4 separate regions of the Homo sapiens genome follow, and all the other regions are reported to be linked to region 2. The links are microRNA targets in miRTarBase. Many come from high-throughput screens and were not tested one by one. Region 2 holds a microRNA gene; each other region holds the end of a gene's coding sequence.
Evidence for each region. Region 2 holds the annotated microRNA hsa-miR-1304-3p (UCUCACUGUAGCCUCGAACCCC, at 1,280-1,301, shown strand). A microRNA usually pairs through its seed, bases 2 to 8, with sites in the 3' UTR of a target mRNA and lowers its output. Matches are read on the target gene's strand: a 7mer-m8 pairs with bases 2 to 8, a 7mer-A1 pairs with bases 2 to 7 and ends in A, and an 8mer does both.

Region 1 (3,131 bases), not on the chromosome of region 2:
TAGTGATTGAATCTCAGCATCATGTCCATTAATCAATGAGAAAAAAAAAAAAAAAAAAAAAAGAGAAAAAACTTGCACCTCAAAAAACTTTTCAGAAGATCCATATATATATATTTTTTTGTAAAAGCCCTGAGAGAAGGAGAAAGAGAATCAAACAAAATGTATAGAAACAAATTAGCTGGACATGCAAACTAAGCTATGATTCACCCAGAGTTTAAACAAATCACAAATTTCACAGTTTAATATTGGGGGGTGGGGGAAGGGCAAAAACAACAAACAAATAATACGTTTCTCCACCTCACTAATAAAATGTGGCAAGACCTTATTGACTACGAGGGTACAGATCAAGGCTAAGTAAAGCTTTAAATCAATAGTGATTATTGCGAGCGGCAGCCCCAGCTACACACGTCGCTGGGAGCTGATTACTGCTACATCTCACCGCAGCGTAGAGTTTAGTCACAGCTTCTCCCCACAATATTGCAAGTTTAGTGTGGAGAGTCGCAAAGAAAAAACACAAGAAACCCCAAATAATAATAACAACAAAAACAACAATAACAACTGTAATAATAATAATAATAATAATAAAAACCCTAAGGGATGTATGAACTGGTTTTAACTAAGTAGGCCAAGGGATCATTGGTTCTGATTTGCATTCATCTCTACAGTAAATAAAACCTCGTTTTTAAACTGGTTCATACACCCCTAATACAGTTAAAAATCATATATACCTCAACCTTTTTTCCTTTCGTATGCGAAGATATCACTTTTCATTATCTCAAGAATATCTATCTTCCTGTGAAGTCTGGGAGGTTGGATTTCAGAAACTGGTGAAGTGGCGGAGAAAAGGGGGCGTGCACGTTTCTGTGTGAACAAGTCTATGTAAAGGAGGAGCACTGGGGCCAGAAAAGGCCAGGGGAAGGAAGCTGGGGTACAGGGGTGCCTCCCCAGGGGAAGGCAAGAGGCTCCATACACTGCAGCAAGCACAGGGGTCCCCAGCAGCAGGCTGGCTGGGGACCCCTGAGGTCTTGGCTGAGGGACCAGGAGCTCAGGTGCAGTGGGGTACATTCTCCTCCCTGCAGGCGGAGACAGTGAGGGAAGTCTATTGCCTGCACAGGATGCTCATGGGTAAAAATAACCCTGCCTTTTTGCATCCAGGGGTGTGGGCTATTTAAGAAACTAGAAACAGCACATTTATCTTCAAGCACCAACCCCACATCGCAGGAAGGTAAATATAAACCTATTTCTTATCTGACATCTTGCATGTGTAGTTTTATTACCAGTAGTAGTATTTCCTTGCTTTGCAAATGACAGTAGCACAGCTGGGTAAGGCTTGGATTAGGCTTAGCAGGAAGACTGGGAATACCTCGCTCACGAGTAATGTGCCTGGTCACTGGGTCACTGCTTTGCTTTCTCCAAAGTCATCTCTGCAGTGCTCCAGGCACGGCCCTGGCTTCTTGATGCCTGTTCCCTGGATGCATGCATCCTCACTCCACCCTCTCTGAGCTGCTCCTGGACCATGCTTGGGAAGACTGCTCACGGCCCCTTCTAAATTCTGCAGTGACAGAAGAAAGGCTTGTCTCATTACAGTAGAAGAGCTACCACCCGAGGGTGCCAACCACAACCGCAGGCACACGTTAACACGGGGACCTGGGTGCGGCACAGGTCTCCCAGGACAAATATTGCCCATTTGATTCTGCTCACTGCAGAGAACAGCAAACTGATGAACTAATAATAATAATAATAATAATAATATTAATAATACATATACTGAAAGGGAAGAGGAGGCAATCAAATATATCCTATCCGTGCATGTTTTCCATAGGTTAAGACGCCAGGGGAGTAACTCTTCTCTATAGTTAAGAATGGATGTCTTGAAACTTGAACAGTGACCATGTCTAATGCTGACAGACTGGAAATGGACATGAGGCTGAAGCTAGAATCTTCCCTGGTTTTGGCCTGAAACCATATTGGAAACCTTCATCAACCACATCCTGTAATACCAAGGACCAGATGACAGCTCCACCATGAAGCACAAAGAAAAAAGGAAAATGTCTATTTAAGAAATTATCATCTTATCCATCTTTCCTCTGGTCATTTACATGAAATTCACATCATTTTCTTCCAGTTATTGGCTATGGGTACCCAAGGGTATGTTTTTTCCTTCTGTTTCCAGCTCACAGAACAAACGGTGCTATCACAGATTCACAAGAACAAGCTCACACACACCAATACAAAATAACGCTAATGCTCAAATGAAGAGGTCCTCTCCAGACAATTCATTATAATATTTGTTTTGTTTAAGAAGTCATTTTGGAAAAATACAACACCCATGATAATATGGAGGGATCCGGTAAGTAGTTAAGGCACTGGAATCGGCACGGGCTGTGGCCTCCCGCGCAGGCTGCGGTAAGGCTATGGCACTGAGCGAGCAGCCACGCTCCTGCTTGTCTCTCTCTCTCTCTCTCTCTCTCTCTCTCTCTCTCTCTCTCACTCCTCAACAGCCAAAGGGCACTGAGGAAACCCCATGAAGTATAGACGCTTTGCTCTGCTGGCTTTTGTCTGTGCTGAGGGGGACTGAGGCTGTCACTCCATCCCCACGAGCTGGGAGGCGCCATCAGCTGTGGCCAGGATTGGGTGGGCAGGCCTCTTGCTGCGCGGCTCCAGCAGGTCCTGCCCCAGGGCCGCCGGGCTCTCTGGGTTAAGGTCACCCTGGCCAGGCTCAGACGGCCACCCTGCCGTGACCTTCTCCTCCCTGTGGCTGCAGTCCTTGGTGGCACTGGCCAAGCCCTCCTTCCGGCTCCGGGTGACAGCCATGTGGTTGCTGGCATTGGGAGCCAGCTCAGCCTCGTTCTCTGAGACGGCGTTGTTGCCGCTGTGGGTGGACTCATTCTCGCTGTCCTCCTCACCCCGCTCTTCCTTGTCGCTGTCCTTCCCGTGGTGTTTGGCATGCCTGGCTTTCTGGTGGATCCGCTGGTGGCGAACCAGGCTGTGCTTCAAGGTGAAGGTTCGCTCGCAGGTCTGACATTTGTATGGCCTTTCCCCTGGAACAATGGAAGAAAGAATTTCCATTAACCAAAAGGCACCAGTACCCACTGCACCCTGCTCTGCACAGGAAGAATGAGGCTCCCAGG
Region 2 (3,132 bases):
AGGAGTTCAAGACCAGCCTAGGCAAGAAAGTAAGAAACACATCTCCACAAAAATTTAAAAATTAGCTGGGTACTGGGGCATGTGCCTGTAGTTGGAGTTACTCAGAAAGGGGGGAGGCTGAGGCAGAGTTGGAGGCTGCACTGAGCTTTGATGGCACCACTGTACTCCAGCCTGAGTAACAAAGACAGACCCTGTCTCTTAAGAAAAAAAGGTTGATTCCAGGCCTGTAGAATAGATAAACAGCATGGGATATGAGGGAAATCCTCAGCAGTATTAATTTTGCATTCCAATTTCATGTTGATGATATACACAATGGCTTTTTGTTTTAAAGGCTTTTATCTTGAGAACATGGTGTCTGGAGTTAAAGGTATGTCTCAATTTGAGTTTTCACATCATATTTGTTTATGTGTAGGAAACAGTATGTTGTCAGAGCAAGTTTCATTTTATTCAGGGACATTTCTACCATGCTTTTAATTCCCATTTATACTGATTTCTGAAAAGAAGAATCCTAGATTCACACATTTTATAGTGATGTGTCAGATTCATTTTAGTTGCAAGCATTAGAGGGTCCTGAATTTGTTAGTTTGTAGCAATAATCAGAACTTTGGATTTCCTACTTGAAGCCTACAGCATTATTTTGAATTAATGCACAATCTAAAATGAGGCAGAGGATTTTATGGTTTAATGCAAAATATAGTATAATAAAAGATGATTACACAGGTCATAAGAATTCATAAATTTGAATGATGTAGAGTTTGATTAAAAGTTATATAATGCCAAAGTCGTAACTTACAGGCACATTATATTCCTGTATTTTATAATGGATGACAATTAATTTTGAGCCAAGAATTAAAATTTGCTGAAATCTTCGAATTGGGAAAACAACATCCTCTGTTGCAATACTGAAGTTCATAACAACAGTTAGACTTTAAACTTAAATCTTAAGTTTAAATCTTTTTCCTTTGGTTCATGTAAAGGAGCTACTTGATGTTACTTTTTATTTATCATTCCTCTGGCTCCTAAGCACAACGTGATTGTGAAATTATTGTTTTTGTGATTAACGTAGTAGGAAGTTTCTGCAGTTGGCAATATTGTAAGAGCATATTGCAGTTTCTGCTCATAATTTCTTTCCTATGGAGTGTTAGACTTTGTTATTTATGTGTATAAATACTAGCTGGACACAGTGGTGCCTGTGGTCCCCAGCTACTCTGGAGGCTAAGGCAGGAGAAACACTTGAGCCCAGCGGTTTGAGGCTACAGTGAGATGTGATCCTGCCACATCTCACTGTAGCCTCGAACCCCTGGGCTCAAGTGATTCAGCAAGAATCACACGATTTTTAAAAGACATGGCAGATCCTGTGTCTTTAAAAAAAAATCAAAACCTTGTAAATAGTGGTTGAGGTCTATCCCGATGGGGCTTTTCCTGTAGCCTGCACATCGTTGGAAACGCCTCATAGAGTAACTCTGTGGTTTTACTTTACTCACAGGACTATTGTTAGATCTGTGGGAAGGAATTACAAGACAGTTGCTAAAAGTTTGAAAAAGACGGTTGCTAAACGTTATGAAAAACCAGATAATCTACTTTTTTACCTTAGGTATTGGCATACTCCACACATCTGTACCATTCTTGAGTGATCGCTTAGGTAAGTTTTAATTGGTGACAGTATAATCTTTTGGGAAATAATGATTACAGTTCAGATGATGAATTTAACTGTTCAACTGCTGAATGATAACGGGCATGAACTAAAACTTAATTCTGACAGAGCTGGATATGGCTGTATAATAAACTGGATCTTAAATTTATACTTGGGTTTTAGTTTTAATAACTGGAAATGTATCCTTTCTAAATCTTTAATTGGTACTTTCTATAGGAATGAATGTGATTTGAACTCATTCATGTTGAGAGGTAAGTAAAATATTTAACTTATAATAATCAAGGACTCAAAAGATGAAAAATAGAAATTACACCATCCCAGTATTTCAGGTATAACACAGAATTAGTAAGATACTGGCAAAAATATTACAATGTATATATTTGTATAGAGAAGGAAAATGAAGAGACTGCATGTCTATACCTACCAAACGAAACTACCTGTGTTCTTTGCATCATTATTCAACTGGCAGTTACACATATTTCATCCTAAAGTCACGTAAACCTGTGTGGATATGTTGAATCAATAGGGATATGAATTACATAAAAAGAATTTTGTGTAACTGGCAGTTTGAGCAACAATGAGCTTGACGTTTGTTGTCTGATCTGTTAAGTTACATGTATATATTCCATCTTTAAGTTTTATAGAGAGACTGGGCAAAGATTAGGCAAAGACTAGAGTTGTAGCTTAAAATGTAGTTAATGTAGCTTCCTTATTACAGTGACAATTAGGAAAAAAGCTCAAATTATTGTACTTGTTAAAGGAATTTGAGAGGTTTGTGAAAGCATTTCTCAGCAATATTGCAAATTTGGGAATACGAGTTGTACAGTTCAGTCATAATTGCACTGCATGGTATCTGCACTCAGCAGTTTACACCTGCTAGGGTGTTCAAAGGTCAGTGCTATAGAAATTCAGTATCTGGCATCGTTGGTTTTCTTGGCTTTGTGCTTGTTAAACCTGGTATTTCTACTGATACAGTATTTGTGTAGGTTTCTCAGAGTGTTCAGTTTGATATACTCTAAAATAGTAAGCAATGCTTTTTTTTCCAGGGTGTCAAATTGAGAACCAGGTAGATCCCCACCACCTACAGTAAAAAGGTAAGATTCTCTGTTTCTATTGATTCTGCTTGTTTCCCTCTATCAGTAGCACTGCCAGCATAACAAGAACTTCGTACAAATACACTACTAAGCTTTAAAGACTTTTACAATGCCTCATTCTAGAGAATGGGCACTGTTGATCATGGTGTCCAAAAATAGTTAATGTGGCTAAATTGAGACAGGTTATGCTTCCATCACAGTATGCATATTGCAGTGGTGACAATGAGACCTGTAACATTTTGCTATGTTTATGAGTAAAAATGTAGGAGAAAAATGTTGACTTTTCAATATTAGAAATAACATTTAATAAGGAATTTTCAGCTCTTATAGGACCACTTTTTTTATGTGCTGTATATTGACTGAAACATTGTAATGTGGTATACA
Region 3 (3,132 bases), not on the chromosome of region 2:
ACAGCCTGCTCTGAGCCAGGCAGCTTACCCACCTGGAAACCTCCAGTTATTTTGATCTTATCTAAAGAATTATTTTTCTATGTTTGTTATCCATGGATATCCCAGAAAGGCAGATAACGTTGTTTCGTGGATAGGAAAAGACTGAAATTCTATTTTTTGATTTTTTTTGCAACTCCCTTATGGATAGGATTGAGACATGCCAGGTAGCCTAATGGTTGTTAAATGTGGAGGAATCATGGGGTAGAGACTGGGTTGGAGTTCAGGGTTTTTTTCCCCTATTACTTGACAGTGTTGTTTTTTTTTTTTTTCTTCTGTGTTCGTCCGCAGTGGCCAAGTTGAATGATGCTGCCCGGGGCTCTGCCAGATCCTGAGACGCTTCCCCTCCCTGCCCCACCCGGGTCCTGTGCTGGCTCCTGCCCCTTCCTGCTTTTGCAGCCAGGGGTCAGGAGGTGGCTCGGGTGTGGGCTGGAGAGGCAGAAGCCCTTTCCTGTTGGTGTCCCAGCACATGGAGCCCCTTGGGCTGAGCACCAAGACCTTGAACCTTTTTTGTTTTACCTTTTTTCCAAATAACAGTTGGGAGAAATATCAATGAAATTCTGGGGGTGGGGGTGGGGTTGAAAGGGTGGGGTGGGAGATATGGAGGAGTATGAATTAGGGCTTGGAGTTGGTAAAAACATTCCTGACTATCCTTCTTAACCACGTGGCTGATGTGGGGTAGGTATGAGGGGAAGGAAGTGGAGTAGCCTAATGAAAAGGGGTTCTAGTTGAGCTCTGTAGATAAATGCCTTGTTTCAGTGTGGTTGGAGACCTGGTGTCAGATAAAAGAAACTCCATCCGCACAGACAGATGCAAACAGCTCCTCTAGTTCTGCAGAGCTAGTTGAGAACTCAACATTAATCATTTTAAAAAGTACTGTCCTTGAAATAGATTTGCTGTGGGAAGAAGGGCAGTGAGTGTGGGAGAAAGGAGCCGTGAGCGTGGGGAACCCCACAGAGCCCAAAGGACTTTTTCAGTATTCGAAATAAACAAAACAAAAACCCATGAAAAAACCCAACCCAGAAATATTCTGAAGCAGTTGGTGTGTTTTATTGGGGTTTGGGAGGGGGAAGAAAACAATACTGAAGACATTGTTAATGTGAGATGCGGCTGAGTTCCCCAATACCATCACTTAGGAAAGGGAGCAGGAATGTTGGCATAAACCTTGCCCATCCCTTTGTTTCTGTAACCAATGTAGAAGGTGCATCAACCTCAGTTTGTGGCTCACAAAATGAGGCATTTAAGATATTTGATCTAAATGGTTTCTTGACACCTAAGCCTAGTCCAGGTTTAGCAGAAAAGGAGGCCCAGTCTCCTTTTCCCTCTGTCTTCCATTCCTTTTCAAGTTCCCATGTTTGTGAGGGAGAAATGTGACAAACCAAAAGAAATATATTATTTCTTTGTAATAAGCCAAAAGAAACTCAAGTCTTTCTGCTGGTGGCCAGCAGGAGGCAGAGTGATTTCTTTCCTCATGATGTGCCAATCTGCATTGCTGGAAACCTGCTACTGAAAGAAGTTAAAAGCTGCCTGTGAATGTAACGTACAAAAGAAAGGTTACCAAAGGAGAAAAAACTCCAGCGGGTGTACGGTGGCTCACGCCTATAATTCCAGCACTTTGGGAGGCCAAGGTGGGTGGATCACTTGAGGTCAGGAGTTTGAGACCAGCCTAGCCAACATGGTGAAACCCCATCTCTACTAAAAATACAAAAATTAGCCGGGCGTGGCGGCACATGCCTATAATCCCACTTACTTGGGAGGCTGAGGTAGGAGAATCGCTTGAACCCAGGAGGCAGAGTTTGCAGTGAGCCGAGATTGTGCCATTGCACTCCAGCCTGGGCGACAGAGCGAGACTCCATCTAAAAAAAATAAATGAATAAAATAAAACAAGTACAAATTTAAACTAGAGACACAAGTTAATGGTGTTTATTGTGGTGGGGTTAGTGAGCCATCCCATGATTTCCTCCTGAGTATGTTATCCCTGGTTTGTGTTTGCCAGCTGGGGAATGAGGTGAGGTCTATGAGGCTGAATGTGGGATCATTCAATTTCTTTCTTTCTTTCTTTTTTTTTTTTTTTTTAGAGGCAGGATCTTGCTCAGTCACCCAGAATGGAGTGCAGGGTGCAAACACTCACTGTAGCCTCAACCTCCTGGGCTCAAGTAATCTTCCCATCTCAGCCTCCCAAGTAGCTGGGACTACAAGCACACACCACCACACCTGGCTAATTATTTTTTGTAGAGATGAGGATTCACCATGTTGTCCAGGTGAGTCTCAGAACACAGGCTTAAGCACTCTTCCCATCTCAGCCTCCCAAAGTGCTGGGATTACAGGCATAAGCCACTGCGCCTGGCTGAGAATATATTTTCATCCTTTCTTTTGTAGAGAGGATCTCGTTTTGTTGTGTAGGCTGCTCCTGAACTCCTGGCCTCAAGCAGTCTTTCCACCTCAGCCTCCCAAAGTGCAGGGATTACAGGTGTGAACCACTACACCCAGCAGTTAGTGCAATTTCATTTTAATACAAGTGAGGAAATTAAGGTATAGAGATAAGTTACTTGTAAAGTAGAAAAGCTAGTTAGCTGAAGAGCTTGAGTTAGTATCTTAGGCTTTTATATTATTTCTTCCCACTATTCCTGGCTTCCCTGGTCCTCAATTTTAATTTGTGGCCTTAAGAAGCCTGGGGTGCCAAAAATGTTTGGGGCTATCTGTATTTCATGTTACTCCTTAGCCTTTTTTTTTTCCTTTTAGTTCTTCACCACTGCACACTTGGCAGGATGTATCCCATTTTAAAACTTGACAGTCCATCTCCTTCACTCCCATACTGTAGGGCTAGGCAAGCAAAGCAAACTGATTCTGCAATGCTTCTAATAGTTATTCCTGCTCATTATTTTAGCTAGATGTATTCTAAAGTCTTTATCCCAAAGAGTTGAATCAAAGGTTCTTCCACTCCTCCAACCTGATTGTGCTGACAAGCCACTAAGCTGAGCCATCTAATATACAGGGTGGCAGGGATGAAGTCACCGTTACTGTCCAACAGCTTTTATTTTAAGCTGGTGTGGGCTGGGCATATCAAAGACAGGCAAAGAAAAATAACTTGGAGAG
Region 4 (3,126 bases), not on the chromosome of region 2:
AAAACCTACAGCCAAGCCAATAAAATAGAGCACGTATCTCAGCAGAACTGCAGACAATTATGCTGGTATTACTGCTATTCATTGGTGGTGTGCTGGAGGTTGAAATTAGTCCAGTAAAGCAAGAAAATATATATATAGGTATAACCTAACGACTAAAGTGGAAAAGTAAGAGTCATTATTTACAGATTATGTGATTGTCTATGTGGAAACGGAAAAGAATCATATTAAGTACTTTGGACTGAATGATAACCCTGAAAATTCATATGTTGAAGCTCCAAATCCCAATGTGACTGTATGTGAAAATAGGGTTTTTTAGTTTTGTTTTTGAGACAGAGTCTCGCTCTGTTGTCCAGGCTGGAATGCAGTGGCTGCGATCTCGGCTCACTGCAACCTGTGCCTCCCAGGTTCATGCCATTCTCCTGCCTCAGCCTCCCGAGTAGCTGGGACTGCAGGTACCCGCCACCACGCCAGGCTAATTTTTTGTATTTGTAGTAGAGACAGGGTTTCACCGTGTTAACTAGGACAGTCTCGATCTCCTGACCTCGTGATCCGCCCACCTCGGCCTCCCAAAGTGCTGGGATTACAGGTGTGAGCCACCGCGCCCGGCCTGAAAATAGGCTCTTTAGAAGTATCGTGAAATGATGTCAAGAGATGGGTAGGGGGAGGGAGGGGGAGGGAGGGGAAGGAGAGAGATGGTGGGGAGAGAGAGAGAAAGAGGAGAGAGGAGAGAGGAGAAAGGAGAGAGGAGAGAGAGACCTATTTGTTGGTTTCCTTCCTGTGAAGACATGAGGAAGTGGGCATTTACATACCAGGAAGAGAGCTCTCGCCAGAAGTTGACCATGCTGGCACTCTGATCTCAGACTTCCAGCCTCGAGAAATGTGAGAATATAAATTTGTTTTTAACCTCATTTATTTAAAATTAACAAATTTGTAAGCCATTTGGTCTGTGGTATTTTGTGATAGTGGCCTGAGCTCATTAAGGCAGATTAAAAACAAACAAACAAAAAAACTAAAAATGTGAAGCAGATTTGAAACTGACAAATGAGGCTGGAAAAATTCTGATGTGCAAGCTGGAAGTAAGGTTGGTAAGGGTGATCCTGGTGAGGTGTCATTGGGGAATGAGGAACATGCTATTGGGAAATAAAGAAAATACAACCCTTGATACGAAGTAGTGAAGAACTTGGCAGAACTGTATTCTAGCACTTTGCGGAAGGTAGAGCTTGAGAGAGATAAAACTGGTTATGTATCACTAAGATCTGTACTTAAAGTGTTAAAGGACACAGGAAGCTTCATTCTTCCTGAGTGCTTACAGGAAAATGTGCTCAGAACAGGCCCCCCAAATTTGGACATAAACAGGCCATGAGAAACTGCCCATAAACAAAATCTCTGCGGCACTGTGACATGCTCGTGATGGCTATGACACCCATGCTGGAGGTTGCTGGTTTACCCGAATGAGGGCAAGGAACACCTGGCCCACCCACGGTGGAAAACTGGAAAACTGCTCAGGCATTCCTAAACCACAAACAATACCATGAGTGATTTGTGCCTTAAGGACATGTTCCTGTTGCAGATAACAAGCCAGAGCCTGTCCCTTTCTTTCTTGTAAGGAATACTTTTAGCTAATCTATAATCTATAGAAATAATGTTTATCACAGGCTTACTGTCAATAAATATGTGGGTCAAACTCTGTTCAAGGCTCTCAGCTCTGAAGGCTGTGAGCCCCGATTCCCACTCTGCACTCTATTTCTGTGTCTTTGTCTTAATTCCTCTAGAGCTGCTGGGTCAGGGTCTCCATGACCCAGCTGGTCTCAGCAAAAATGCAAAAGGAGACCTGAATTGCAGAAAAAATTGTTAAGGAAAAAGGAACCAGAACTTGGAGATTTGGAAAATTCTCAGCCTATCCATAATGCAAAAATTAGAAAACTTGTACTGAAGAGAATCCTCAAAGTGTGGCTGAACGATCATCTGATAAAGAGATCATGAGTGGGATTCATGGACTATATCAGCCACCTTGACAGAAGTGAGAAGAGAGACTGGATTATACTAGAAGAGACATTGCCACTTACATTGTGCCATCTAAAATAGACATACAAGGCAGAACAGGCAAGGCTGTCACACTTCTTAGATTTTACAAGGGGACACAGAAATAATCAGCTGTGAAAGGGCACTGGCAGTTATGGATGGTTTCATTCCTGACACGCTCTGCAGGATCCGTGGGATCAGAAGAGACCCTTGGAGGAGCATCTCTTAACAACCCACCTTTGGGGTCCTACATCATCTTGGCTTCTGGTAAATTTTGACATAAATGTGCCACACTGGCAGCCACTAACCAACAGGGGCTGGGGTCAATCTGCATGATTTATCTCATACACAACTTGTTAATGCTATGATCTTAGGAATCTAATCACCAAGGTGAGGCAGCCTGCAGTACTGACCTCACCATCCATGACCCTTCTTCACAGATGCCCAGACTCAGGCAACCATGATGTTGTATTCAGAACCTGTAGGTTTAATTTCAGACCCTCAGGATGGTATCTAAGGCCAATCCATGAGTCATTACAACCTCCAAAAGGCATTTAGGACAAATCTGATAATCTTTGGTGTCATTGCCAATAATTAAAGATGGCAACCGATGGGCTAAATGGTAACACTCATATCCTTGCATTCATAGGGTTTCTCCCCAGTGTGAATTCTTTCATGTCTACTTAGGCGTGAGGAAACAGCAAATGCTTTCCCACATTCTTTACATACGAAGGGTTTCTCTCCGGTATGAGTTCGCAGGTGAACATTAAGGCGTGAGGAATATAGAAATGCTTTCCCACATATCTTGCATACAAAGGGCTTTTCTCCACTATGAGTTTTCAAATGTTTACTACGACGGGAAGAAGTAATGAAGGTCTTCCCACATTCAACACATTCATAAGGCTTCTCTCCTGTGTGAATTCTTGTATGCTGAATAAGACTTGTGGATGTAGTGAAGGCTTTCCCACATTCCTTACACTGATAGGGTTTCTTTCCACTGTGACTTCGTATGTGTATAGAAAGGCCCGAGTACTGAGCAAAGGCTTGGCCACATTCCTTACATTCATAGGGTTTTATTCCAGTGTGAGTTCTTACATGTTCAGT

Region 1: miRTarBase lists RREB1 as a target of hsa-miR-1304-3p. Seed matches in the 3' UTR shown: 7mer-A1 at 2,486-2,492 and 7mer-m8 at 1,697-1,703.
Region 3: miRTarBase lists ENSA as a target of hsa-miR-1304-3p. Seed matches in the 3' UTR shown: 7mer-m8 at 948-954.
Region 4: miRTarBase lists ZNF561 as a target of hsa-miR-1304-3p. Seed matches in the 3' UTR shown: 7mer-m8 at 381-387.

What each region holds. Positions count from the first base shown.
Region 1 is chr6:7,248,421-7,251,551 of GRCh38, reverse strand. RREB1 (ras responsive element binding protein 1) reads right to left here. Exons shown (of 13, transcript NM_001003699.4): 13 at 1-3,041. The coding sequence ends at 2,584. Among named protein-coding and RNA genes, the nearest start is that of SSR1, 63 kb to the left of the region's middle.
Region 2 is chr11:93,731,860-93,734,991 of GRCh38, reverse strand. MIR1304 (microRNA 1304) reads left to right here and starts at 1,228; the gene lies at 1,228-1,318. SNORA1 (small nucleolar RNA, H/ACA box 1) reads left to right here and starts at 2,859; the gene lies at 2,859-2,988. It overlaps SNORA8 (small nucleolar RNA, H/ACA box 8), which reads left to right and starts at 2,493; the gene lies at 2,493-2,631. SNORD5 (small nucleolar RNA, C/D box 5) reads left to right here and starts at 1,692; the gene lies at 1,692-1,764. It also overlaps SNORA18 and a transcript of TAF1D not described here.
Region 3 is chr1:150,620,055-150,623,186 of GRCh38, reverse strand. ENSA (endosulfine alpha) reads left to right here. Exons shown (of 4, transcript NM_004436.4): 4 at 328-1,062. The coding sequence ends at 343. Among named protein-coding and RNA genes, the nearest start is that of ENSA, 8.0 kb to the left of the region's middle. RefSeq lists a silencer at 240-534.
Region 4 is chr19:9,607,563-9,610,688 of GRCh38, forward strand. ZNF561 (zinc finger protein 561) reads right to left here. Exons shown (of 6, transcript NM_152289.3): 6 at 1-3,126. The coding sequence ends at 2,638. Among named protein-coding and RNA genes, the nearest start is that of ZNF561, 12 kb to the right of the region's middle.